Linked DNA regions of Homo sapiens: region 2 is linked to region 1. Evidence: fine-mapped expression QTL. A gene starts in region 1. The other region holds a variant in brackets. All regions are shown on one strand. Distances are between the middles of the regions.

Region 1 (16,167 bases):
CTGACTAGGGATGCCAGTGAAGGGCAAAACAACTTTCACGTATCCATCACATATTATATATGTGTGTATTATATATGTTATATACATCATATATAATATATACATAGATATTCCTTTAAATAGGCAAGTACTTTTATATTCTGTGTGAAAACCAAGTGGGAGAGGCAACTTTTTTCTTCAACTATAGTTCATGCCCCACATTGTTATCTATTTTAAGACCACCTCTATAGTGGTAAGGAGTGAAAGAATGACGAGAGAGAATCCTTTAAAATAGGAAAAGCTCTGGATTCTCAAAAGATTTAGGCCGGGCGCGGTGGCTCACGCCTGTAATCCCAGCACTTTGGGAGGCCGAGGCGGGCGGATCACGAGGTCAGGAGATCGAGACCACGGTGAAACCCCGTCTCTACTAAAAATACAAAAAATCAGCCGGGCGCAGTGGCGGGCGCCTGTAGTCCCAGCTACTCGGGAGGCTGAGGCAGAATGGCGTGAACCCGGAAGGCGGAGCTTGCAGTGAGCGGAGATCGCGCCACAGCACTCCCGCCTGGGCGACAGAACGAGACTCCGTCTCAAAAAAAAAAAAAAAAAAAAAAAAAGATTTAGAGATCCACCAACATAATCTCTTCCTTAAAAAGACCCAATCCCCCGCGTGCCTCAAACTCAACTTCCCAGATAAGAATGTTCACAGCATGTTATCCTACTCTAACCAAAACTTATAGCCCTGAATTGCAGGTCTCCATTTTGACCCTCAAATGTGGAGTCAAGGCTGGGCACGGTAGCTTACGCCTGTAATCCCAGCACTTTGGGAAGCCGAGGTGGGCGCATCACCTGAGGTCCTGTCCTAGATAGAGACCATCGTGTCCAAAATGGTGAAACCTCGTCTCTACTAAAATACAAAAAATTTGCCGGGAGTGGTGGCGCACGCCTGTAGTCCCAGCTACTTGGGAGACTGCGGCAGGGGAATCGCTTGAACCCGGGAGGCAGAGGTTGTAGTAAGCCGAGATCGCGCCACTCCAGCCTGGCGACAGGGCAAGACTCCGGCTTAAAAAAAAAACAAAAACAACAACAAAAAAAGTGGAGTCAATTAACACTGCCTTCTCCAACTTCACCTACATACAGATCACCTGGAGATCTTGTTAAAATACAGATTCTGCTTCAGTAGGTCAGCTTCAGTAGGTCTGGCGTGAGGATTTCAGGTAAAGCTAATGCTGCTGGTCCTGAGAATCCAGGGACCATACTTTGAATAGTAAGAGACTAGTGGGAGACTATCTATCAACATTCATTTTCTAAACTCTGGTGTTATCAGAATCTCCCGTGGGGTCTTGTTAAATTCAACTACTTGCAGTTCTGGGGTGAGCTGAACATCTATAATAAATATCCACAAGCGATTCTGATACATACCAAAGATTAAAAGCTGGAGCCTAACATACGAATGGAGTATGGGGGGCGGGTACCACTTAAATAAAAATAAATGTATTGTCTACAATTTATGACATTTTTCACTACGTGGCAGTAAAGTATTTTGAAGTAGGGGTACCTTTTTCCAATGAGGACATGGTATTTTACAGGACGGGGACTCTCTGTGATGCCATTCCAGTAGTTACCTGCTACAGGCTGGCTACCTCATCTGTGGAGCTCCAGAGACCACGAAAGATAACACTCATTGCCATAGCTACTTGTCAGCGCATAAGAAAGTGAACACACAGCTGGTACCAATGACCTTCCTTTTCTGTTTCCAAGTTAATGGCTGGCACCAAAGGTCTATTCCTCTACCCTACTGGTTTATCACTGGGCTGAAGAAACCCAAGTAGTGAATTACCCACTAGGACCCTGGAAGAGGAAGTACAACGGTTATCCTCAGTTTTCCCTGGAATCTGGAATGAGCTTCCTAGTTTACTGAAAGTCTACTTTGTTGCCTTGAATTTAACCCAATCCCATATGTGATAATTATTTTAGCATATTTGATAATAAAGATTTTAGGAGTGTTGCCCAAGAACATCCTTCATTTCTATCTCTGGTGCTGAAATCACCAGTGTCCTAGGAATTCATGTACTATTTGTCCCCAGCTAGAAAATAAAATGCATCAAACGATTACATGCTTTTTCACTTGTGATCAAAAGGAAACGGTATCAGCCACTTGAGGCACAGCAAAGCAAATCTATGTAGTATTTAACAAGTGTACAATTATTTCAAAAGCAAAGCTTACAACTAAATACCTGTTTTTACAAGTCAAACACTAAGAAGTCAGTACAAAACTGGCTGCAAACACAAATCAAAGGTGCTATAACATTATTTTAAAGAGAGAAGGAAAGGGGAAAAAAAAGCTCTCTCCTTCCCAAAGTGTAATTTGTTACTATGAAATTTCTGGACAGTCTTCGAAGACTAAGCCTGTGAAGGGGAGGAAAATATTCCTTTTAAGTAGTTTGCAACTGTAGGCTACTTCTACCAAATCAAAGAGCTACACTTATTTAAAACCACAGGATTGGAGCCAAACTGTGGTCTATCAACTCAGGATGCCAACTTTTTAGTGTATTAACAACAACATGAAGACAAAGAAAAATACGATGGGTCTGAGTGGCTAGGGATATAGATTGTAAGAGACTTGTGGAATAGGAAAAAAACTTAGACTGGCCAGACCATAAAAATACCAGAGATGCCCACAGACAGCCTTCAAGTATGCACCGCTGGCTATGCTGCAGTGCTATGCTTAAAGCGTGAACGACATGAGTATTAGAAGGCGAGAAGTAAGAAAAGCAAACAGTCTTACACTCCTTTTCACTTCGGGAATAAAACTCTTGGCTTATATAGGGCATTCGTAAACCCGGCCCCCGGTTAAACCGACAGTTTCTTCATGCCCAGGTCTCTAACCTCCCTCGAGACATTCCAAACCTAGGAAAGGCGGCGAGGGAGAGGGACCAGAAGTTCTGGAAACCCTTCGAATCTTCAGTTTGCGCGAATCCTACCACAGTCAGGAAGCAGAGTTAGGGTTCTTATTCTTGAGAGCTCAATGCCCGAGTTTCCCCTGTTTGAGAGCCGAAGACGCGGAAGAGCCGCGGAAGCCAGGCGAACGCTCAGCCGGGTTAGCCAGCTCTCCGGGTCTCCCGCGCGGTGGCATGGCCGCCAGAGCCCTCTGCCCTCCCCGCCCTCTGGGGGCCCCAGGCCCCGCCGAGCGCGGGAAGCGAGGGACCTGGGCACCCAGTGCCTACGGCCGCTGTCCTACCAAATACAAACGGCGAGATATTTGCGCTCCGGACGCCCTCACTTCTGACCCCGCGCGGCGCACCTCCAGTTGGGGCTGGCAGGGACCCACTCCCCACCATTCGGCGGGACTGGGCCCCGCACCCCGCGCCTCGCGGGGGCTGCCCACCCGCAGCGGAGCCAGGTGAGCCCTGCGCGCGCGGCGCACAGAGCCCTCGGACCGGTGCGTCCAGAGGAGCCCAGCTGTTCCGGCCCCCAGCCTCGCTAGGGGCGCGGCGGGCGCGCCTCACCTGCTTGCCCCGGTAGAAGAGGCGCTGGCATTCGGGCCGCACGTCGAACAGCGCCCACACCCGCTCGCGCAGCTCCTCAATCGTGGCTTTGCGAGACACGTCCTCAATGGTGCACGTCTTGGAGCCATCAATGGTGCGAACCTGTATCCACATCTTGGCGCCTAGAGAGGAACCGGTCCCCTTTGTCTCCCCCTGAGCTCTGGGCGCCGCGCCCCGCCCGGCCCGCGCCGCTTTCCCTGCGGCTCGGGCCCTCAGCGGCAGGCGGGCGAGCGCGCCCACCGGACCGACCGGACGCCGGGCCCGACAGGCGGCGACGACTCTCAGCGCGCGCGCCCGACTAGCCGACTTGAGGAGAGACGACCGGAACCACTCTGAGGCGCTGCCGCAGACACCGCCTCAAAGATAGGAAGAGGCCATGTCTGCGCCGCGCAGAGTGTTTACTTATAGAGCTGGAGCTCCCACATGGAGGTCACGGCGCCAAGCCGGATCTCGCGAGATCCACGCCGGGCTCCGCCTTAAAGAGGAAGCGGCCCGGGAGAGGGTTACAGACCCGAGGGAACGAAAATGGGCAGGCGCGGAGAGGGCGGGTCGGAGGGGCGGGGCTACCAAAAGCCGTTACTTGCCCCACCGCCTGCACCTGGCCACTGGGCACGCCCTCTAGCCTTTGGGTTTCGGAAGATTGCGCGGCTACCACATCGGTTGCCGTTTTGAGGCCTCGTTTCAGAGCTGAGGGGGCGGGTGCCTCCTCAGGCTTAGCGGATATGGTTCTTTGGTCTCAAAAACACACCAAAAATAAGAAACCCTGGCGTGCACTTGTATAATCCTGGAAAGGGGGCGCGGGTGGGTGCGGCCTAAACTTCCGAGAAAGAACTGAAGGAAATGTGTGCGCTCCACCGCGCTCAACAGGAAAGCTCCCGCCACGCGGCCTGGCGGGTCGGGTCGCCCGGGAAAGGCCCCGGGGGCCCTCCTGCTTCGCGAACACGTTTCCCGCCTGGCCGCAATGCTACTTTCGCGCGGAAACCCACTTCCGAGGGTTTCCCGTCGCCTGGCGGAGGCGGCAGCTCCAGGCCTATCCTCAGGCCGCGGGTCCCGCTGGGATCGCCCTCTCTGGCTTGCAGCGCTCCCAGCCGGCCCTCCGGCCTTGGAGAAGTCGGGGCAGCTGCCCGAAAGGCCGCTCTCTAACTCCGGACATTTCCGTTCGTAGACTTTCCGCGTTAGGGGTGCCTTTGGCCTAAGGGATTGCGGGTTTGCGGGAAACAGTTTTAAATAATGCAGAGCTACGCGCCTCCGAAGAAAGAACTCCAAAGACCCTACTAGGATTAAACCCTCAGAAGTGGGCCCAACGCAGCACTACCTAACAGGGCTTCCCCCACCCCCCACCCCGCCTTCTTAATCCTTCCCTGCTACAGCTGGGGAGTCGGGGTGGGGGTGAGTGGGTTTATTTTATTTTATTTATTATGTATGTATGTATGTATGTATGTATGTATTTAGAGACGGAATCTCTCTCTGTCGCCCAGGCTGGAGTGCAGTGGCGCGATCTCGGCTCACTGCAAGCTCCGCCTCCCGGGTTCACGCCATTCTCCTGCCTCAGCCTCCCTGGGGTAGCTGGGACTACAGGCGCCCGCCACCGCGCCCGGCTAATAGTCTCGATCTCCTGACCTCGTGATCCACCCGCCTCGGCCTTCCAAAGTGCTGGGATTACAGGCGTGAGCCACCGCGCCCGGCCAAGTGGGTTTATTTTAAATGAAAATATGTCTTCTCAAGAAGGGAGAGAGGATATAAACGTAAACAAAACAAGACAACTTGGACTTCACATTTGCCAAAATCGGTAACTTAAATATTCACATAGGTGCTAATTATTCCCATAAAGGTACAGTACCATTTTTTTGTAATAAACTAATAAACAGCTAAAATAATTACAAGCACAGACAAATCCAGTAGTATATCATGAAAAAGAAGAGAAAGGCCGGGCGCAGTGGCTCAGGCCTGTAATCTCAGCGCTTTGGGAGGCCGAGGTGGGCGGATCACTTGAGGTCAGGAGTTCCAGACCAGCCTGGCCAACATGGTGAAACCCCATCTCTACTAAAAATATTAAAAAACTAGCTGAGCATGGTGGCAGTTGCCTGTAGTCCCAGCTACTCGGGAGGCTGAGGCAGGAGAATTGCTTGAACCCGGGAGGCGGAGGCTGCAGTGAGCTGAGATCACGCCACTGCACTACAGCCTGGGCGATAGAGTGAGACTCCATCTCAAAAAAAAAGAGAAAAAAAAGATGGCCCAACACAGAAGAGACAGAAAAAATTAACTGCACATACATATTTTGGGTTTCTGCCCCTGTGAAAATTTCAGTCACCTAGAACCTCTAAATATAATTCACTTGTCTACCCCTATTTTAATTAAAGCAAATATTGAGTATTTATTACATATGTAAATGAGATGATATTTAGGTTGGTGCAAAAGTCATTGGGGTTTTGCCATTTCTTTCGGTGGCAAAAACCACAATTACATTTGCACCAACCAAATCTACCTAAAGCACACTTACTACCTACCTCAATAAGGCGAAACTATTTATTATAAGGTTATGCTATTTACTATTATAACGTTATACTATGGCTTTGTGGAGTTACGTTAGGATTTTTTTTTTAGTTACCTCTCACAAAACAAATTACAATCTAGTTGAGATAAGATTTAACAAAAATAAAATATTAAAGAATAACTTAGTACTAAACACTGATGTTGGCGCAAACCATGATTACAGATGAGAGGAGAACTAGAATGATTAAGAAAAGGGGAACTAGAATGATCTGGAAGCTTAAAAATAACTGTACAACTTGACACGAGTTATGTGATACATTGTAGTAGGAGGCAGCATTTAAATGTTCAGTTCATGGATTGAGATAGACCGGAATTATAATCCCAGTTTTACTGCTTGCTTAAAAATGTGATCTTGTACAAATAACATCCTCAATTTCCTCAATGTAAAATGGTGCTTGAAATAACCTAATGATTGTAAAGTGGTTTGCATACTATCCCTTAGTAGTACACAATAAATTATTTTAGTACTGCTGTTATGGAGAAGATTTAGATAAACAGAGTATGCCCAAAGAGGAAAGAGTGCTTAAACAAAGACAAAAAAGTGTGCATTTTTTACAGGTCAGAAGAGACTGCAAATCAGAGAATGGTTGACTAAATAGAAAAGGGCAGTGTGTGAAAATTAACATTCAAAGCAGATGATTTTTGTGGGCCCCAGGGAAAAACTAAGATTTTTAAGGAGTAGATGGATGTAATTAAATATGCATTTGAAATAATAGCAAAAGGAATCTGGACAGATGCCTTAGGGAAAAAGTAAGGAAGAGGGACATGAGGGGAGAACTTATTGTCAGAAAGTTTACAGAGGAGGCAATTGTGTCAGTTTTGGTGAAATTAGTGGCGGTAAGTAGGAGAGGAGAGGATGTATTCCAGAGTATTCTAGAAAATTGAGCCTATAAAACTTGTAGGATTGTGGATATAAAGGATGAGGAAAATGGAATGTTGAGAACAGTTCCCAAGTTTCTAGCTTAGGAGATTTAAATTGATGGCTCGAGCAGATGGTGATGCTCTGAACTTGTAGAGGAGGCAAGTCGGGAAAATACAATGAGTTCCAAATGAGCTGTGTTGCATTTGAAATGCATCCAAAATATAGCATCTGTCTAGCTGGAGATGTCTAACTGACCACTGGAAATAGAAGTTTGACGTATTGAAGAGAAATAGGAAAGTTCTTAAAGAGGGACTTTTTAAGACCTCCTGTACACACTCTTATGAGATTTATCTTTCTTAATGTGATGGGGCTTTAATGGAGAACTGCAGGGGTGGGGAGGGGATAAGATGACTGTCTCAAAATTAGGTATCTACTGAGACTGTATAGGATTTGTGTATAGATCCCAAACAATCTATATTGTTAAGCACAGAGTTTAGAGATGTAAGACTCAAAAATGATGTATTTGTCCTGCAGACCAAATGAATTACATCTGGAAACATAAATTTACATATGCAGTAGGCGACTTAGGGTATAAACAAATAACTGCAAGTAATGATTGTATATGTAACAAAACACACCCTTCCTGTGTTTCTCCATGTAGTACTGTGTACTGTTTTCTCTCTTTGCCTGCAATACTGTTGTTGTGTGCTTAGGCATCTGCCCAGTTGTAAAAACAAAATAGTTCTCTGACAAAAACAGCAATATTAGACAGTTGGGTTTTTTTTTGTTTGTTTGTTTGGTTTTGAGATGGAATCTCACTCTGTTGTCCAGGCTGGAGTGCAGCGGTGCAATCTCGGCTCACTGCAACCTGTGCCTCCCAGGTTCAAGCGATTCTTGTGCATCAGTATCCCACGTAGCTGGATTATAAGCATGCACCACCACGCCTGGCAAATTTTTGTATTTTTAGTAGAGACAGGGTTTCAACATGTTGGCCAGGCTGGTCTGAAACTCCTGGCCCCCAAGGATCCACTTGGTTCAGCCTCTCAAAGTGTTGGGACTACAGGAGTGAGCCACAGTGCTCAGCCAAGACAGTTTTGGCATATCATACCTTACTACCAAGTGTGTAGCTGAAACCATTTGGATATGAACAGGGAAAATAAAGAGAAATTATTTACATGGATGAAAAGCAAATACTAAAGTTTGTACCATCAGTCATGATCCAATATTTGTTCAAGTCAAGAGGCAAAACAGAAAAAGGTTGATTGTAGAACAAATTCCAGAATCTTATACTTCAGAATGTCTTGTTTCTTAACTACTGTCTCAAAGCCAGTAACTTATTTTTAAAGAATGAATTACAACCTATCCTCTGAAGCTATGATTAATACCTTTTCATCTGCCCTTTTATGTTGGATGTCTTCCTTTTTCTCCTCCAGGGCCACTCTCTACCTGTTTGCAGTCCTAGAGTCCAAGAGTAGGAAGAATATAGAGGCAGTACCCTCAAGCTTCCAACTGAGGTTGACCAACGGGGAGGGAGCACAGACAAAAACCTGCATGATACGAAGAGAATGAGATCAGGATATTCCCGTGGCTTTCTCCCTGCAAGACCAAGTCAGGCTGTCTCTTGCCTTTGCATGATGTCACTTGTCCTCTTCAGGTGACCTGCTCCACGTGACTCGCTCTTCCATGTTCTGGTAACCTATCTTTCCCTCCCCTGTTGCTTTGGGTTCAGGGGTTGTTACATATTTGCAGTCGCTAGTCCTAGATGCATGCATATTCTTTCCATTCCCTATATCGTGTTCCATACTCTTATCATTGGTCCCATGGGGCGGGGAAACCATTAAATTCTCTTAACTGGAGGATTTGGATTATAATCTCTAATGCTATTTTAGAAAGGACTACATGTTACAAGAAATGCACTAGAATTTCCATTGGCTAAAAAGCACTTAATATGGTTGCTCATTACTTAAATTAGTCATATTAAATTAGTCAAAGTGTGCTCTTTCTTTTTAATAGAATCACATATTTTTACTATGAAAATCTACTTTAGAGCTCATTCTGGTCTAACCTTCTCTTTAGCAAATGGTGAAATGATTTGCACAAGGACATGTAACCAATGAAAGAGTGTTAAAGTTTAAACCTCTGGTCTCCTTCCTCCCTGGCCAGTGTTCTTTAGCTTTCAATTGACCCTCTTGTTTCTCTGGAGGCTTCCCCTTGAACTTTGTCCAAATAACTTTGAACTTTGTCCAAAGAATAAACTTCTTTTCTGCAGTGAGTGACCCTGGTTCTTTGGACAATCCGATAGCTCAGGTAGGAGTGGGGACCTGGGATTCTCACTAAAGACTTGCAATGTATCCCCATTTTCAATCTTATGCCTTCCTCTGCCTTCTGCAATTTGTCATTCCTATTGCCGAACATTTCTGAGGGTCTTTGAATCAATTAGCTCATTTCTTATACTGATGACAGTGTTTAACAAAATTTAGGAGGGCTGGGCGCCAGTGGCTTACACCTGTAATCCTGGCACTTTGGGAGGCCAAGGTGGGAGGACCACTTGAGGTCAGGAGTTCAAGACCAGCCTGGCTAACATGGTGAAACCCTATCTCCACTAAAAATACAAAAATTAGCCAGGCATGATGGTGCTTGCCTGTAATCCCAGATACTCATGCCTGTAATCCCAGCTGAGGCAGGAGAATCACTTGAACCCAGGAGACAGAGGTTGCAGTGAACTGAGATCCTGCCACTGCACTGCAGCCTGAGCAACAGAGCGAGACTCTGTTTAAAAAAAAAAAAAAAATTATTAGACTGATCCTCTACTAACCCCCAGCAGACCAGACCAAACCAGCATGGAGTCACCTGTGCTAAGTGCCACATAATAAAACTGAACTTTGAAAGGGGCTAGTTTTCAAATAAATAAATAAATAAACCAGGAAATTCATAGCAACACAGCCACCAATCAGAGGGGCCCCAGTTTACCTGAGCCTGCATGATAAGAGAGTTCACTCTAGGCCAGGTATGGTGGCTCACATCTGTAATCTCAGCACTTTGGGAGGCCAAGGCAAGCGGATCACCTGAGGTCAGGCGTTCGAGACCAGCCTGGCCAACATGGTGAAACTCTGTCTCTGCTAAAAATACAAAAATTAGCTGGGTGTGGTGGCACACGCTTGTTGTCCCAGCTACTTGGGAGGCTAAGGCAAGAGAATCGCTTGAAACTAGGATGTGGAGGTTGCAGTGAGCTGAAATCGTGCCACTGCACTCCAGCCTGGGCAACAGAGCCAGACTCTGTCTCAAAAAAAAAAAAAGTTCACTCTGTTTTAACCGTATGAGGAAAGTAACTTTGAAACGGTCAATCTGCTTTCTGCTTTCTTCAGCCCTTTGCCTATAAAGCCAACCCCCTCTGCTCAGCTTGGAAGAACACCCATTCTGTTTTATAGAATGAGATGTTACCCAATTCCAGAATCACAAAAGAAAGACAATTAGATCTTTAAATTTGTTGTAATTTTGTGTGTGACATCATTTAGGGTTCAACATCCTAATGATGGGGTTAACTTAAGGTTCAACTTCCAGTTAGGTTGTCACATGCAACTTACTTTGCAAAAAAAATTTAGAGATTTATAATAAAAGTACTTTACTATCTCTAACAGTTTCTGTGGAGCGGGAGTTCAGAAACGGCTCAGTTTAAAAGCCTGAATCTGGCTCAAGGTCTCTCATGCCAGTATCATCAGATGGGGCCAGAACTGGAAGAACAAGGACATGGTTAGTTAGGACCTAGCTAGGTCTCTCTCTCTGTCTCTCTCTCTCTCTCTCGCCCCCCGACCCCCGTCTCTCTCTCTGTCTCTCCTCTTTCCTGTCTCCTCTCTCTCTTCCTTTCCTTAAGAAGTCTCAGGATCTCTCCATGTGGTCTCTCTCTGTGGGCTAGTTTGGACACTCACAGAATTGCCACCTCAGGGGCAGTCAGACTGCTTACATGGTGGTTGAAGACATCAAAGACGGGTGAGAATTCTAGTGAGCAAAGTGGAAGTTGTATGACTTTGTGTGGCTTAGCTTTGAAAGTCATATAGTGTCATTTCTTTTTTTTTTTTTTTTTTTTGGTTGGTGTTGTTTGTCTGTTTTGAGACAGGGTCTCACTCTGATGCCCAGGCTGGAGTGCAGTGGCGTGATCTCAGCTCACTGCAACTCTGCCTCCTGGGTTCAAGCGATTCTCCTGCCTCAGCCTCCCGAGTAGCTGGGATTACAGGCACACCACCATGTCTGGCTAATTTTTGTATTTTTAGTAGAGACGGGGCTTCACCATGTTGGCCAGGCTGGTCTTGAACTCCTGACCTCAAGTGATCCGCCTGCCTTGGCCTCCCAAAGTGCTGGGATTACAGGCATGAGCCACCACGCCTGACCACAGTGTCATTTCTATCATATTCTTTTGATCAAAACATTCACAAAAGCACTCTCAGTTTCAAGGGGAGTAAATAGAGACCCCACATCTCAGTGGGAGGAGTGTCAAAGTCACTTTGTAAGAAGAGCACATGGGATGGAAGATATTATTGCAGCCAATTTTGGAAAATAGAATCTGTTGCACAACTCTTCTATCTAATTTTTCAATCCCTTTTTAGTACAACCACAGAGTTTTAAAATTATGAAATATGGGCCAGGCATGGTGGCTCATGTCTATAATCCCAGCACTTTGGGAGATAGAGGTGGGAGGATTGCTTGAGCCCAGGAGTTTGAGACCAGTCTGTGCAACCTACAGAGACCATGTGTCTACAAAAAATTTTTTTAAATTATTCAGATGTGGTAGTGCACATCTATAGTCCCAGCTACTTGGGAGATTGAAGCAGGAGGATCGTTTGAGCTCAGGAGCTTGTGGCTGCACTAAGCCATGATTGTGCCACTACATTCCAGCCTGGGTAACAGAGCAAGACCCCATCTCTGAAAAAAAATTATGAAATATATTAGCCATATTTTAAAAGGTAGAGAGAATAATATAGTAAACACTCTTGTATTCACCACCTTGCTTTAGAAATGTTTCGAATAGTTAAAACCCCTCTCTGCTTACATTCCCTTTTCTCTCTCTTTTCCAAAGAGATAAACATTGTCTTGAATTGGGGATTTATTATTGTCATGTGCATCTTTATACTTTTAATATGTGTATGTGTATTTCTAAACAATAATAAATTTGGGTGTCTTTTTAAACTTAACATGATTTTTTTATAACTTTAAAACTTGCTTTTTTAAAATCATTATTAGTTTTCTGGGATCTGTTCGTGTTGACGTGTAGCTCTAGTACAAACTTTTTCTTAAAGGGTCAGAGGGTAAATATGTCAGATCTTGAAGGCAGATGATCTGTATTGCAACTACTTCATTCTACAGTTCTACAAAAGCAGCTCCACTCAGTATATAAATGAATGAATAAAACTTTGTTCTGACAAAACTTTTTTTACAAAAATAGGTATCAGAGTATAGGATGTGGCCTGTGGGCCACAGTTTGCTGACCCTAGTTCCATGGCATTCATTTTTACTAATCTATCATATTCCATTGTTTAAGTATACCATAATGTAGTCATTCTCTCTTCTCTCTCTCTCTCTCTTTAAAGATGAAGTCTTGCTCTGTGGCCAGGGTGGAGTGCAGTGGCACGTTTCTAGCTCACTGCAACCTCAAACTCCTGGGCTCAAGTGATACTCCCACCTTAGCCTCCGAAGTAGCTAGGACTACAGGCACATGCCATCCTGCCTAATTTTTTTTTTTTTTTTTTTTTTGGTAGAGATGAAATCTGGCTATGTTGCCCAGGCTGGTCTGGAACTTTTGGGCTGAAGCCGTCCTCCCGCTCCAGCCTCCCAAAGTGCTGGGATTATAGGCATGAGCCACCATGCCCAGCCAATCATTCTCTTTTTGATGTATATTCAGGTTGTTTCTATTTTTTACTCTTACAAACAATGTTCTAAACATTCTTGTACATTCCACTGTGTGCAGAGTTTCTCTGGGGTAGAGATCAACAAGTAATCCATAGGCTTTTCATCTTCTAAGGATGTGTTAGTATCTTGTTTCTGTTCTTTTGAATTACATTAAATATTCCTTTACTATCATTTAAATGAGGTTTTTGAGCAAGAGTTGAGTTAATCTAGCATATTTCTCATATTCTTTAATTTTGTTATTTCCCTTAATTATTGAGTACACAGTAGATCATCTTTAGTCCAATAAACATTAGGTTGAAACTAATGACTATTGCTTTTGGGTTTTGTTTGGTTGGCTGTTTTGTTTTGTTTGAGATATGATTTCGCTATGTGGCCCAGGCTGGAGTGCAGTGGTGTGATTAGGACTTACTGCAGCCTCAACCTCCTGGATTCAAGTGATTCTCCTGCCTCAGCCTCTCAATTAACTGAGACTACAAGTGCACACATCACACCCAGCTAATTTTTTTGATTTTTATTAGAGATGAGTTCTCTCCATGTTGCCCAGGCTGGTCTCCATCTCCTGAGCTCAAGCAATCCTTCCGCCTCAGTCTCCCGAAGTGTTGGGATTACAAGCGTGAGCCACTGTGCCAGCTGACTATTGCTTTTGGCAAACTTAATGAGTCCATCTTGCTCCCAATTGCACTGTCATTATAAGCAGTACTTTCACTTTTTCTATTTTCTACTAAGTGGTATAAAGTAATATATACAAAATGCAACAAATTATCTAAGTAATTATCCAAATAAATCCCATTATAATATAATAAAATGATGATATTAGTAAAGCTAAACTGTTTGGCAGGCAGGCAAGGATTTCAGGGCTTCGACAAAAATGCATTTTTAAAAAGGTGGGCAGAATTTTCCTTGCTCTTGTTGATACGCAAATGCTTTCTCAAACTCCTGACCTCAAGTTTTTTTTGTTTTTTTTTTTTTTGTTTTTTTTTTTGAGATGGAGTCTTGCTATTTCACCTAGGCTGGAGTGCAGTGGCACAATCTTGCATCACTGCAGCCTCTGCCTCCCAGGTTCAAGCGATTCTCCTGCCTCAGCATCCCGAGTAGCTGGGACTACAGGTGTGTGCCACTGCTCCCTGGTAATTTTTGTATTTTTAGTGGAGATGGGGTTTCGCCGTGTTGGCCAGGGTGGTGTCAAACTCCTGACCTCAAGTGATTCACCTGCCTCGGCCTCCCAAAGTGCTGGGATTACATGTGTGAGCCACCAAACCCAGCCTCAAGTGCTTTCCTTTGTAAATTGCAATACAATTTATAACCCGTCAAACTTGTCTCCATGCACATCTCAGGATCTTCTGGCAGAGTATTTCTTACCCAAGATAATCTGTCAGTGTACTATGTGGGTCTAGCCTCGACTTATTCACACAGTGACTGGATAGGGTTCTAAGAGAGCCAGTGGAAGCCTCCAAGGCCTCTTGAGGTCCAAGACTGGAATTGGCACAGGATCACCTCAACAGATTTTATTGGCTAAAGCAAGTCACAAGGCCAGCCCAGATTCAAGGAGAGGGAAAATTGATTCTTCCTCTTGATAGGAGGAGCTGCAAAGTCTCATTGCAAAGGAGTGTGTATATTGGGAGGGGAATAATTATGGTCATCTTTTTTTTTTTTTTTTGAGACAGAGTCTTGCTCTGTTGCCCAGGCTGGAGTGCAATGGCGTGATCTTGGCTCACTGCAGCCTCCTCCTCCAGGGTTCAAGCGATTCTTCTGCCTCTGCCTCCTGAGTAGCTGGTATTACAGGCACGCACCACTACATTTGGTTAATTTTGCATTTTTTTTTTTTTCTGAGACAGTGTCTTGCTCTGTCGCCCAGGTTGGAGTGCAGTGGCGCGATCTCAGCTCACTGCAAGCTCCGCCTCCCAGGTTCATGCCAATCTCCTGCCTCAGCCTCCTGAGTAGCTGGAACTGCAGACAGGTGCCCATCACCACGCCTGGCTAATTCTTTGTATTTTTAGTAGAGACGAGGTTTCACTGTGTTAGCCAGGATGGTCTCGATCTCCTGACCTCATGATCTGCCCGCCTCGGCCTTCCAAAGTGCTGGGATTACAGGTGTGAGCCACTGTGCCCAGCCTGGTCATCTTTATAATTAATCTAAAACACCATCTCTTCCTAACCCTAATTATAATAGATTAATAGATTACTCATTGATAACCTTTTATAGCTTTGGTAACATCTTGTCCTCTATTTTTCATAATCTTTCAATCCCTCAGTCTACCACAAATTATTGTTGTGAGTATGTTTCATACATTGCTGGTTCAGGCTGAATTTTGCAAAAGAAATCTGAATTTTGAAAAAGAAATCTATTGAAAAAGAAATCGGCATATAAGTGAACCAATACAGTTCAAACCTGTGTTGTTCAAGGATCAACTGTATTGTGATTTTTTAAAAGCAATTTTTATGAATTGCTATTCATAGCAATTACTATTAATTTTAAACAATCAAAACAATAATCCTTAATGTCTTTCACTATGATATATTCTGAGGAGTCACTCAAGAAAATATATAATTTTCCCTTAGTTAGGCTTAGAAAAAATTACACTGAGTCACAAAGGTTAAGGTAGATCAAAGTTTACCAGCATTAACTGGTCATCGGTATCTTTTTGGCTGATAAGTATTGGTTCACTTATATGCAGATTTCTTTTTCAATATAACACAGATAAAAAATACAGTATTGGAGGGACTCGAAATCCACTTATATGGAGGACTGACTTCAAATATGCACAGGGCCTACAGTGGGATTTGAGCATGTGTAGATTTTGGTATACATGGGAGTCCTGGAACCAATACCCTGTAAACCCAGGGATGACTGTATTTAGTTTCTTAAAATGTGTCACAAATATGTACAATTTTAATAATATGGGTGAACAACAACCTAATTAAAAATAGGCTCAGTGGGAGAGGGGCAGAGAAAAAAATAGGCACAGGCCCTTCACAAAAGAGGACATCTAAATGGCCTCCACACCTATGAAAAGATCCTAAATATCACTATCAAGGAAATGTATGTCCCGCTAGCATGTGCTAATGATTAGAAGGCTGATAATATTGAGTATTAGCAAGAATATAGAGCATCTGGGACTTTCATATATTGCTGGTGGAGTGTGAGTTGATTAAACCAAGTTGGAAACCTGCTGGGTAGTTTCTATGTACCTAGTCTAGGAACAATTCTACTCGTAGCTATGTATGCAATAGAAATTAGTGCATATGTCCAATAAGGTACAAGAATGTTTGTAATAGATTTAGTTGTAATTGGCCCAAATTGAAAACCACCTAAATGTCTACAAATAC
Region 2 (13,063 bases), 130 kb before region 1:
CCTGACCTCAGGTGATCCACCTGTCTCAGCCTCCCAAAGTGCTGGGATTACAGGCATGAGCCACCACGCCCAGCCATAACACCACTTTAGTTAACTGTTTAGGGGCATTACTATATGCAGGTTTCTCCTAGGCTCCTAGTCTACACAGCAGCCCAGGTCAATAAAGATTCCACAACACTGAAATGTGTACATAAATACCATAAGCTAATTATTTACAAAGTGCTATGATATGCCTTGAAAGAGTAGAGTAACTCAGACTGGGTAGAGGCAGGATAGAATGGTTGACAGCGCCTTCTTGCTGGAGCCATTTGAGATGGGCCTGGAAGCCAGCGTAGCCGATGAGAGCCTGAGTAAGCAGAGACACAGGAGCAAACCAGAGAAAAGAAAGCTCTCTGGTCTGGAGTGAAGGATGGGATAGGGGAGAGGGAGCAAATGACAATGAGGCTGGAAATGTAGCGTGGGGCCTTGAAGGCCTTGGAAGGCTCTGGACTTCACCCTTGAGCTGGACAATAGCCATTAAAGGTTTTTGAGCAGGGGAGGGTAGGGATTCATGAAGAGACCGTTACAATCATTAAGACGGCGGCAAGGGGGAAACATGCCTTAGAGGTAGCAAGGGGCTGGGGTGGTGGCTCACACCTGCAATCCTGTAATCACACCTGTGATTGAAGGTTAGCTAGCCTCTAGGGCTTACAGTAGAGGGAATAATAGGCAGGGGAACAAAGTCACCCTGGAAGTGATGGGAGGGAACTAAAAACCAGGCATCCTTTTACACATTGGGCTGTGGGCTCAGGACCTAATAGCTGAGTCTTGGAAGTGGTGAGGCCCCAGGAAAGAATATTGAAGGTGAGAAGCCAGAACAAAACGCCTCAAGTAGATGGCTACATTAAGAGGGAGGGAGAAGTTGGGTGCCTGGTGAGGGGCACTCCACACCTGAGGCAGCTTTAGAACCCTGGCAGTGCTTGGCACAGTGCCTCTCCCTCAACACCCCTGCCTGGCCCTCCTGCTGCCGTGTGGCTCCACCTCCTCCCTGCAGCCTCCACTCCCTCCTCTTGCCCACCCCCGACCCCACCCCGGAGCAGCTGCTCTCCCACTTGGTATTGTCTGGCTCTGTCCATCTGACTCCAGGGTCCAGGAGAGAGTGGAGGCTGCGCCTGCTTTGTTTCTCTGGCAGTCAACAGACAAATGCACGTGATGACGCATAATAAGGAGAGACACTGTAAAGAGCGGGTGGCTGATTTAATCTTACTTAAGTTTATTTAGATTTTTTCTGCTTTTACTGAGGTATGATTGACATCTGATTTTAAATTATGAGTCTTAAAAGGAACCTTTGTCTATAACAATTAGGAAGCCTTTGGTAGCCTTTGAAAGTAGTTTGGGCACAATGGTGAGGCAGACGCTGGGTGTTTAAAATGGGCTGAGATGTGGATGGAGGTCGGGAAGGAGAGGGGAAAAGGATTCCATGTTTGCAGGTAGTGAAGGAGGAGGGGGCTGCTTCAGTAGGATGTAGTTATATTTTCTTTTTAACTATGAAAACAACATGATTTTAAGCTGTGAGAAGGGAGAGCAAAGATACCTTTGAGAGAAAAACAGATGGGGGAACAAAGTCACCCTGGAAGGGAAAGGCTGGAACTGAGAACCAGGTACAAGTCCTTGCTATGGGCCCAGAGTAAGAGCAGGACAGAGACCAGGACCTGGAGCTTAGATCAGAGAGACAGACGTCAGGAACCAGCCCACCCGCCTGCACCTGGGCAACAGCAACAAAGCGCTTATGGGATCTTGGTTTCTCTGGTCCAGGTGGAATGTAGCTCTATAGCTGTGATCTTTAATTTAATGGCTGGTCTTACCTTATAAATCAGTATCCAAAGGGGTGGTTCCACAGTTTGAAAAAGAATAGGACCAAATAACCAGAAGTGCTGGTTAAAATGCTCCCCAGAGAGCAGAAAACACAGTTGTGGGCAACATGTCTCTAAGCAGCACAATAAAATGCTTCTGTGAAGTGGGTACTAAAGAAGTGACAAGAGCTTCTGATTAATTCAAATCTAGCTTAGCTCCTGCTCTGTGAAATGTATCCTGCTTGTGTATTGGCTTTAAGGAATAGCTTCAATATTTATTTCATCAGATTACATAAATAATGTATATATGCTCAACACGGACATTTTGGAAAATAATAAAGCATGACAAAGAAAATGTAAATGGTCCATGGTTCCATCAATCAGTTATAGCCATTACTAATATTTTCTGTATTTCTTCTCCTCTTTGTTTGTACAATTGATCATACTACAGATAGTTTTATTAGTTTGTTGTCCAGGCTGAAGTGCAGTGGTGCCATGGCAGCTCATTGCAATCTTCAGCTCCTGGGCTCAAGTCATCCTCCTAACTCATCCTCCCAAGTAGCTGGGAACACAGGCATACACCCGCCACACCTGGCTAATTTATTTATATATATATTTTTTGTAGAGACGGGGTCTTGCTCTGTTGCCCAGGTTGGTCTTGAACTCCTCTGCTCTAGTGATCCTCCCACCTCGGCCTCCCAAAATGCTGGGGTTATGGGTGTGAGCCACTGCACCTGGCCTACAAATACAGTTTTTAGCCTATTTTTTAAATGTATATTATGAGCATTTTCCCCTGTCACTAAATATTCTTTGAAAGTGGCACTGTCAATTCCATTGTGTAGATGTGCCATGATTTAACCAATTGTATAGTTTTTCTTCCCTTTGTTTGCATTTATTACAATGTGGCCGTGAGTATCCTTTGCTTGAAATTTTAAAGAATTTTGCCTGATAATTTCCTTAGGAGAGAGTCATAGAAAAAATTATTATCTCAGAGGATATAAATGCACTGAAGCTTTTGACATGTATGGCTTCAATTTTTTTCCCAGAGACTTTGTGCCAATTTATCTCACAGTGATAACATATGAGAGTGGCCATCACACAGGGGCCTAGTGAGGACTGAGAACTAGACAGAAGAACAAGTAAACAATATATCATGGCCAATTTGATAGGTGAAAATGACCTTATTGTTTTAGTATATGTAGCCAATGCGCTCAATGTTTCCCTAGTTCTTAGTGCCAGCCTTGTCCATCCAGGGTAACTGTGTTCCCCCATCTGTTCTGTCTACTTCCTTCTCCTTCACAGCTGACTCTCTGATTTCACAGCTTAAAATCATGTTGTTTCCATATCTTAAAAAGACATATAACTGCATCCTATTGGTTTTTTCCCTAATTGCTTATTTGTTCATATTTTAAACTTCCTCACGTTTAATTTTATTTAGTAGCAGCCGGGTGTGTTGGTTCACACCTGTAATCCAAGCACTTTGGAAGGCTGAGGCGGGTTGTCTAAAAGTATGACACTTACATTTAATATATAGTACCTAATAATAATGATAAAGACTATGCTGCTGGTTTATGTATTCACTACATAATGCTTCTTATCATTATTATTATTATTATTATTATTTTTGAGACAGAGTCTCGCTTGGTCACCCAGGTGGGAGTGCAGTGGTGTGATGTTGGCTCACTGCAACCTCCGCCTCCCAGGTTCAAGCGATTCTCCTGCCTCAGCTTCCCCAGTAGCTGGGACTACAGGTGTTCATCACCACGCTTGGCTGATTTTTGTATTTTTAGTAGAGACAGGGTTTCATCCTGTTGCCCGGGCTGGTCTCAAACTCCTGACCTCAGGTGATCCTCCCACCTTGGCCTCCCCAAATGCTGGGATTACAGGCGTGAGCCACTGCGTCTGGCCCCCATCATTATTTTAGAGTGTATTCCTTCTACTGTAAAAAAAAAATGTTAACTGTAAAACAGCTTCAGGGCGGTCCTTCAGGAGGTATTCCAGAAGAAGGCATTGTCATCACAGGAGATAGCAGCTCCGTGTGTGTTACTGTCCCTGAACACCTTCCAGAGGACAAGATGTCGGAGGTGGGGCTAGGTGCTGTGGCTCATGCCTGCAATCCCAGCAGTTTGGGAGGCCAAGCCGGGAGGGTTGCTTGAGCCCAGGAGTCTGAGACCAGCCTGGGAAATATCATGAGACCTGTCTCTTCCAAAAAAAAAAAAAAAGAAAAAATTAACCACCATGGTGGTGCACACCTGTAGTCCCAGCTACTTGGAAGGTTGAGGCAGGAGGATTGCTTGAGCCTGGGAAGTTGAGGCTGCAGTGAGTTGTAATGGTGCCACTGCACTCCAGCCTGGGTGACAGAGTGAGACACTGTCTCAAAAAAAAAAGATGAGGAGGTGGAAGACAATGATATTGAGCATCCTGAATCTGTAGGCCTAGACAAAGGTGTGTGTTTGTGTCTTAGTTTTTAACAAAAAAGTTTAAAAAGTAAAAAGAAATTAAATATAGAAGAAAGCATATAGAATAAGGACATTGAAAAAGAAAATATTTTTGTACAGCTGTACAATGTATTTGTGTTTAAAGTGTTATTACAAAAGAGTCAGAAAGGTTTAAAAAATTTAGTTTATAAAGTAAAAAAGTTACAGTACGCTGGGCATGGTGGCTCACGCCTATAATCCCAGCACTTTGGAAGGCTGAGGCGGGCAGATCACTTGAACTCAGGAGTTCGAGACCAGCCAGGCCAACATGGTGAAACCCCGTCTCTACTAAAAATACAAAAATTAGCCAGGCATGGTGGTGGACATCTGTAATCCCAGCTACTCGGGAGGCTGAGGCATAATAATCGCTTGAACCCAGGAATAGGAGGCTGCAGTGAGCCGAGATTGCGCCACTGCACTCCAGCCTGGGCAACAGATTGAGACTCTGTCTCAAAAATAAAAAAAGTTACAGTAAGCTAAGGTTAATTTATTATTGAAGAAAAAAGTTTTTTTAAATAAATTAATATAGCCTAAGTGTACAGCGTTCACAAAGTCTATGGTAGTATACAGGAATGTCCTAGACCTTCCCGTTCACTCACCACTCACTCACTGACTCATCCAGAGCAACTTCAGCCCTGCAAGCTCCATTCATGGTAAGTGCCCTACACAGATGTACCATTTTTTATGTTTTATGTCGTATTTTTGCTCTGTCTTTTCTATGTTGAGATATGTTAAGATACACAGATTCGGACCATTGTGTTACAATTGCCTACAGTATTCAGTACAGTAGGAGCAAGAGGCTGTACCATGTAGCCTAGGTATATATAGTAGACTTTACCAACTAGTTTATGTAAGTACACCATGCTGTTTGCACAATGACAAAGTCATCTCACAATGCACTTCTCAGAACGTATTCCCTTCATTAAGTGATGCATGACTGTATTCTGCTAGAATGAGGAAAGAAAGGAATTACCTCAGGTAAGATGATACTTTTTTTTTTTTCTTTTTTTTGAGACAGAGTTTCGCTCTTGTTACCCAGACTGGATTGCAATGGCGCAATCTCAGCTCACCTCAACCTCTGCCTCCCGGGTTCAAGCGATTCTCCCACCTCAGCCTCCTGAGTAGCTGGGATTACAGGCATGCACCACCATGCCTGGCTAACTTTGTATTTTTAGTAGAGACAGTGTTTCTCCTTGTTGGTCAGGCTGGTCTCAAACTACCGACCTCAGGTGATCCACCCACCTTGGCCTCCCAAAGTGCTGGGATTACAGGTGTGAGCCATTGCCCCGGCAAGTTGATACATTTTAAAGGAAGAATTGCAAAAATCCACAGCTGTCTACTTTTATAGGAGGCAAAGGTTTGATCTGAATGGAGTTCCCATTAGTAGGAGGAGATGACTTTGTTAGTATCCCAACGTTTTCTTTATGTTTTAATTTCTTATATGCCTATCCATTTTTTTTTTTTTTTTTTTTGAGACAGAGTCTTGCTCTGTCACCCAGGCTAGAGTCCAGTGGTGCAATCTCGGCTCACTGCAACCCCCGCCTCCCCGGCTCAAGCAATTCTCCTGCCTCAGCCTCCCACTATGATTACAGGTGCCCGCCACTGCACTCGGCTGATTTTTGTATTTTCAGTATAGACGAGGTTTCGCCATGTTGGCTAGGCTTATCTTGAAATCTTGACCTCAGGTCTTCTGCCTTTTTTTTTGTTTTTCCATCAGACAAACAGCGACTTTGCCTGCAAATACCTGTCCCTGCGGAGGTTTCCAGGTGGCCCTTGCTGTATGGGTGGGCAGGGGCCTCAGGGGCTGGGCCCTCACATCCTTGGCTCACAAGTGACCCTGCTCAGTCCCGCTTACCTGACCTCATTCTCGGGGAAACCTCATTCTCGCTTGAACTACAGGGAAACAGCCGGGAGGTTTGATTCTGTTAGTCATGTTCTGTGGATTTCAGCTAAAAGGCTTGACCAAGCATTGATTGCCCAGCAGAGCTTTCCAGAGTAGTTACCCAGTGAGTTCATTTATTCCTCAGCAGCCGCCTTGAGGATGGGGGATAAGTAAGGTCTGGTCCCTTCTCTCAAGGAGGGTTTTGAGCAGCCCTATTTTTTCACAGCACACTCCCATATTGTTCTTACCCTCAGAAGACAATCAACATATGGGGGCGGTGGTTCCCACTTAGATAGCCACCCAACGTTTACCTTGCTTTTCCTTCATCCCCCCCCCTCCTGTCCTCCTTGCCCCTTTCACGTGGTACCTTCTCAGCTGTAGTCACTGTTAGGTCCAGCAGAAACACCTACTCTGTTAACACGAAAAGTTGGTGCTGAGTGGTTTATTCAGTTTCCACTTGATATCGCCCCAACATTGCCCTATAGCAGGTTTGTGTGTCCTAAAAGCTGCAAAGAACATCTTAGGATCTGGCTTCTGACAGCCACCAAGTTGAAATTTCATCCCTTTCAGGGCTCACATAGAGATGGAGAGAGATGCTGGAATTCCACCGCAGTTTCTATTTGAACGCAATAGAGTATGGATTTAGAAAATAACATCTGAACCTCATTTAGAAAATGGAGCTCTTCCTAAACCTCTTGGCTATGGTGGGGACCTCTTCAGATGGCACTGTAGTATTAGCAGTGCTGTGTTGGGCTTGGCTTGACGGTGCCTTTCAGCTATTACTGAACCTCTGCTTGGAAGACTCTCCTCTTGCGCTGCCAGCAAGAGTGCCTCCTCCCCCACTGTGTCTCTCCCCTCCTCCCCTCCCTGCTGTCTGGTGTCATTCCGAGCAGTGAGCTTCCATTAGCCTTCGTCCTCCAATCATTGTCACAATCAGGGCATTTTGTTTTGTTTAAGAGACGGTCTTGCTTTATTACCCAGGCTGGAGTACAGTCACATTATCATAGCTCATTGCAGCCTCAACCTCCTGGGATCAAGCGATTCTCCCACCTCAGCCTCCCAAGTAGCTGGAACTACAGATGTCTGCCACACACCTGGCTAATTTTTAAATATTTTGTAGGATAGGGTCTTGCTTTGTTGCCCAGGCTGGTCTCCAACTCCCAAGCTCAAGCAATCCTCAGCTGAGCATTTAAGAGTCCTGGTATTAATAGTTGATAAAAACTTAGTCTAATGATTTTCCCCTTGAACATTCCACTTACTATTCTGTTTCAGCATTTTTTCCCTATGTTTACCTACCCATGAATAGGATTTTCTACCTCTTTTTTTTTTTTTTTTTTTTTTTTGAGAAAAGGTCTCACTCCGTCACCCAGGCTGGAATGCAGTGATGTGATCTCGGCTCACTGCAGCCTTGACCTCCTGGGCTCAAATGATTCTCCCACCTCAGCCTTACACGTAGCTGGTACTACAGGCAGGCACAACTGCACCTAGCTAATTTTTTGTTTTTTTGTAGAAACAAGCTCTCACTATGCTGCCCAGGCTGGTCTCAAACTCCTGGGCTCAAGCGATCTTCCTGCCTCGGTCTCCTGAAATGCTGGGATTACAAGTGTGAGCTACCATGCCCGGCTGAATTTTCTGCTTTTGAATCATACTCCTTACAGTTTATTCCCCATCATTGTTAGAAAGCATGTTTTGCCTGGGCGCAGTGGCTCACGGCCTGTAATCCCAGCACTTTGGGAGGCTGAGGTGGGGGGATCACTTGAGCCCAGGAGTTTGAGACCAGCCTAGCCATAGTGAGACCCCATCTCTACAAAAAATACAAAAATTAGCTGGGCATGTGGTGCACACCTGTAGTCCCAGCTACTCTCAGGAGGCTGAACTGAGAGGATTGCTTGGGCCCAGGAGGTCAAGGCTGCAGTGAGCTGTTATGGCACTACTGCACTCCAGCCTGAGTGACGGAGCGCTCAACTGTGTCTCAATTTCTTTTTTCCTTGAGACAGAGTCTTGCTCTGTCACCAGGCTGGAGTGCAGTGGCATGATCTTCGCTCACTGCAACCTCCGACTCCCGGGTTCAAGCAATTCTCCTGTCTAAGCCTCCCAAGTAGCTGGGACTACAGGCATGCGCCACCACGCCCAGCTAATTTTTGTATTTTTAGTAGAGATGGGGTTTCACCACGTTGGCCAGGATGGTCTTGATCTCTGGACCTCGTGATCCGCCCGCCTCGGCCTCGCAAAGTGCTGGGATTACAGGCTTGAGCCACCGCGCCTGGCCCCTATTTCAATGTTTTTGAAGTTTTTTTTTTTTTTCTTCAAGCGTGGTTTAA[A/G]AATATGCAGTTTCAGTATATTCAGAGTCTTACGCTCTTTATAGTTTTATTTTCAAACAAAACCACTTCTTTTTTTTTTTTGAGATGAAGTCTCGCTTTGTCTCCCAGGCTGCAGTGCAGTGGTGCCATCTCGGCTCACTGCAACCACCACCTTCCAGGTTCAAGCAATTCTCTCACTCAGTCTCCCGAGTAGCTGGAACTACAGGCACCCGCCCCTACACCTGGCTAATTTTTGTAATTTTTTTTTCGTAGAGACAGGGTTTCACCATGTCGGCCAGGCTGGTTTTGAACTCCTGACCTCAAGTGATTTGCCTGCCTCAGCCTCCCAACGTGCTGGGATTACAGGTGTGAGCCAATGAGCCCAGCTCCACCTCTTTCATGTTTATTCATTCTATAAGAAGCAGAGCAGTTCGTAGACTGTCTTCAGGGGCTATTAATTACTGGAGCTATTCTTCACAGGCTTGAGAAGTTATGCTTGCTCTGAGTCTCTATAAGTGGATTCATTTTTGCTGAGAGTGAGGAAAGTGGGTTAAGAAGAAGGAGTACATCATTATCTCATGAGTAGATACTTTCCTGGAAGGAAATTCATCAGTTGGTGGACCGTGGAATTTGGGAAGCCCCGGAGGAATATTGGTCTATTTATTAAAACGCTGACTTAATGGTTTATTCCTGATGATGGTTGTGTGGTCAGTAGCTCATTCTGGGGAGCTACTGGCAGCCTGGACCTAGAGAAGAAGCCTGTTTATGAACTACAGGTCGAATATCCCTAATCTGAAAATCTAAAACTTTTTCTAAAAATTTATATTTATTTTTTTGAGACAGGGTCTTGCCCCTATTACCCAGGCTGGAGTGCAGTTGTGTGATCGCGGCTCACTGCAGCCTCGACTTCCCAGGCTCAGGTGATTCTATTTTTAGTAGGGCTAGGGTTTGGCCATGTTGCCCTGGCTGGTCTGGAACTCCTGATCTAAAACGATCTGCCCACCTCAGCCTCCCAAAGTGCTGGGATTACCAGCATGAGTCACTGTGCCTGGCCTGAAAATCCAAAACTTTTGGGTGCCCACATGAGGCTCAAATAAAGATCTGTAATTTCAAATAAGGGATATGTCATTGGTAGAACAAAGTGAACTGGGTCGCACAGACTTTGGCCTCATTAACTCCTTGTTACTTACGGTATACTGTTTGACGTCGCGTATTTCTAATTCTTTGTTTGCAGCCTGAAACCAAAACATCAAAAGGTCCTTCAAAGAAACATAAAATTCTGTATGTGTCTTATGGATATATGTTTAATATATCCATACCTATATATACGCAAAAGTAATTATTTGATGTTGAGGGTAAAGTTGCTGAAAAGTGTCAATGGCTCTAGAAATATTTTGTATAAAAGGATCAGGACTATACAACACATTTAACTGTTGCAAGTAGATTTTATGTCCGCAGAATAGAAATAATCTCATCCCCAGACACCTCCGGTCATATGTTCAGTAATGCCCCCCACCTGCCATTAGCCATAATCAGGTTCACAGGTGTGTAGTGAGCTGAAGATAAGACACATCGGCACAGTGTGCTAAACATTTTTATTTGTAATAAGACTAAATGAAACCTTTATTGCCAATAATAAACTTACCCGGTGCCCATGGCTTCTTGGTCCTCGCTGATACACATAAAAAGCTGATGCACTTATTTATTAAATTACTTATTCATTTGTTTGGGTAAAACAATAAGCTGATGCTAATCTTGGGCTGAAACAACTTTCCTGAACAGGTTATGTGGGTCATGAATTTATTTTGGACACGAGACCCTTCAAAAAGTCTGCAAATATTGAGGCTGTGGATGTGGCCAAGAGACTCCAGGATTATGGTAAGTGGCTTTTGACATTCATGCCGCCGCCCATGCTGGCTGTGGACCACTTCCTAAAGCACAAATGGAAAATGCAGGCACCACAGTAAACTGATCTGGGGGATAAATGGGGAGCTCAGGGTTCTTGGCAACCTCCAAAATAATAGAGAAAAAAGTTTGCTTATGACTGCACTGGTCCTGCCCTTCAGAAGATATTAAAATATGCATCTTGAATCCATTAACAGCCAAGAAAAGTGTTTAAGATTAAAATTAAAACCCCTTTGAGTTGCAGTGAGTGTAGTGGTAAAGGAGACAGAGCAAGTAACCCATCGAAGTGGTAGAGACAAATGGCATTGGAGTTTTATAGCCACCTCTGTCATGGCGTAGCTGTTTCAGCTGCTTCTAGAGATGAAGAAATAAGTGTAGTAGTTTTCACAAAGAAAATGCAACTTTCTTTGAAGCATTTTGAAAGACACGGACACTTTACCTGTGCATTAGTGGGTGTTCATTCAGCTCAGCTCACTACATTTTCCTAGTGAACAATGTTATTAATATTAAAATATTAAGACCATATTACTTTTTTGGGGGTTGGGGAGACAGAGTCTCACTTTGTCGCCCAGGCTGGAGTGCAGTGATGTGATCTCAGCTCACTGCAACCTCCACCTCCTGGGTTCAAGTGATTCTCATGCCTCAGCCTCCCACGTAGCTGGGACTACAGGTGCACACCACCATACCCAGCTATTTTTTTATATTTTTAGTAGAGATGGGGTTTCACCATGTTGGCCAGGCTGGTCTCAGTCTCCTGAGCTCAGGCAATCCACCCACCTCGGCCTCCGAAAGTGCTGGGATTACAGGTGTGAGCCAGCACGCCCAGCCAATATTACTATTATAATAATATGAAAATGATAATAATATCAAGGATCTTTCAATTCTCAGAAAGGCTAAGTTGGGGAGAACATTGCCATTCAATGGATATGGAGTCCTCTCTGAGTTTTAATGACTTGTTTTTGGAAAAAAAGAAAAAAATCTTTTAAATTTAATAGTTTCACTACTGCATCATAATGGGAATCCCATGTGTGTGACTCACTCCTCTCTTGAATGAATGATCTTATTATGCAGTTACACTGATAATAGATGGGAAAGCCAGAGAAAGGCTTCATTAATGAAATTACCAATCCCATCCTCAAGATCTCTGCTTGGCAACTCTTGTAACCTGACAGTAGAACTCCTTTCCCCTGACAGCCTCCCGGCTAGCGATTGGGTAATGGCCGACTCAGGAAAACACACTCACTTTGTGGATGCCTTGCCTACTTCACACATCTAACTGCAACAGCATTTGCAAGGAGAGAGAGGAGGGGCTCACAGGGAGGTGGTAACTGAAGTCACCACCCAGTGTTTCTGAATCATGTTGTCTCCTGACCTCAATGTTGTTTTGAAGATTGATAGAACCGTTTCCACACTTGTCCAAAAGCCCAGAATTGTCCAGGTGCCTGGCACATAGTAGGCACTCAACACATAGTGTTAATAAATGAGAGACCAAATGAATAGCTAAGTCGAAAAACAATGAACATGACAACACAGTTTCCAGGTCTTAAAGCATAACCGCTGAATGTGAATTTTTAAGGAAGAGAGCTGATAATCTGTATATTTAACACGCAGCTTCTGTGTGAGTCTTTTCAGGCAATTTTGGGGCATACTGCCTTACCCAGCAGTTCCAGGCTAATTATCAGACCAATTATCAGAATCACCTGGCATGTTTTATGACTCATAGATTTTTGGACCCTACCTTGGACTTCCTGAATCAGGGCCCAGATGCAGGAATTTCTTTTGCAAGAACTTCTCAGGTGGTTCAAAATATGGGGACCACTACAGCAGGATATGTTGGACTGAATTTGCTCACACATGGAATTAAGGGCAGACGTGATAGGTAATCAGCTTGTTCTCTTAAAAAAAAAAAAAATCCCTGTCTGGTTTGAGTGACAAAGGTGTATGCATTTACCAAAACTCATTAAATGGTACAGTTAGGATTTGTGCATTTCACTGTAAGTTTTATCACAAAAATATGTGAACAGATACTGAATTCTAGTCATGATATATATGCTGAAGGGTTTAAGAGTGAAGTGTACTAATGACTGCAGTGTACTTTGAAATGCGTCAGAAAGTAAGACGGATGGCTGGATGAGTAGATGTGATAAAGCAAACAACAGCATTGTAGAATCTAGGTGGTGGGTATATGGGTGCTCACCTACAGTCCTTTCAACTCATCTGGATGTTAGTGTTTTTTTTTTAATAGAGACAAGGTCTTACTCTGTCACCCAGGCTGGAGTGCAGTGTTGTGATCTTGACTTACTGCAGGCTCACCTCCTGGATTCAAGTGATCCTCCCACCTCAGCTTTCTAAGTAGCTGGGATTACAGGCACATACCACCACACCCAGCTAATTTTTGTATTTTTTGTAGAGACGGGGTTTTGCCATGTTGCCCAGGCAGGTCTCAAACTCCTGGGCTTAAGCAATCCGCTGGCCTTGGCCTCCCAAAGTGCTGGGATTATAGGTGTGTGAGCCACAGCACTTGGCCTGAACATTTTTAAATAAAATGTTGGTAGAGAATGTTTGAAATCATGCAGATGTTACTTTAAAGTACTCCATGTAATAATGATGCTCACCAGAATTTGAGAACCACTGCACATTGGGGCAAGATTAGTTCAGAGGTGTATC

What was found. PIP is the estimated chance that this variant, and not a neighbour inherited with it, causes the effect.
Region 2: its variant is the best candidate, but not a certain one, in a credible set for the expression of UHRF2 in whole blood (TOPMed, PIP 0.51).

Annotation. Positions count from the first base shown.
Region 1 is chr9:6,400,962-6,417,128 of GRCh38, reverse strand. It overlaps UHRF2 (ubiquitin like with PHD and ring finger domains 2), which reads right to left and starts at 3,930. Exons shown (of 16, transcript NM_152896.3): 1 at 3,486-3,930. The coding sequence starts at 3,638. RefSeq lists silencers at 3,113-3,542, 3,613-3,792, 4,073-4,212.
Region 2 is chr9:6,537,357-6,550,419 of GRCh38, reverse strand. It overlaps GLDC (glycine decarboxylase), which reads left to right. Exons shown (of 25, transcript NM_000170.3): 22 at 10,274-10,369. It also overlaps the pseudogene RN7SL25P. Among named protein-coding and RNA genes, the nearest start is that of GLDC, 100 kb to the left of the region's middle. The variant A/G (reference allele first, on the strand shown) is at 8,513.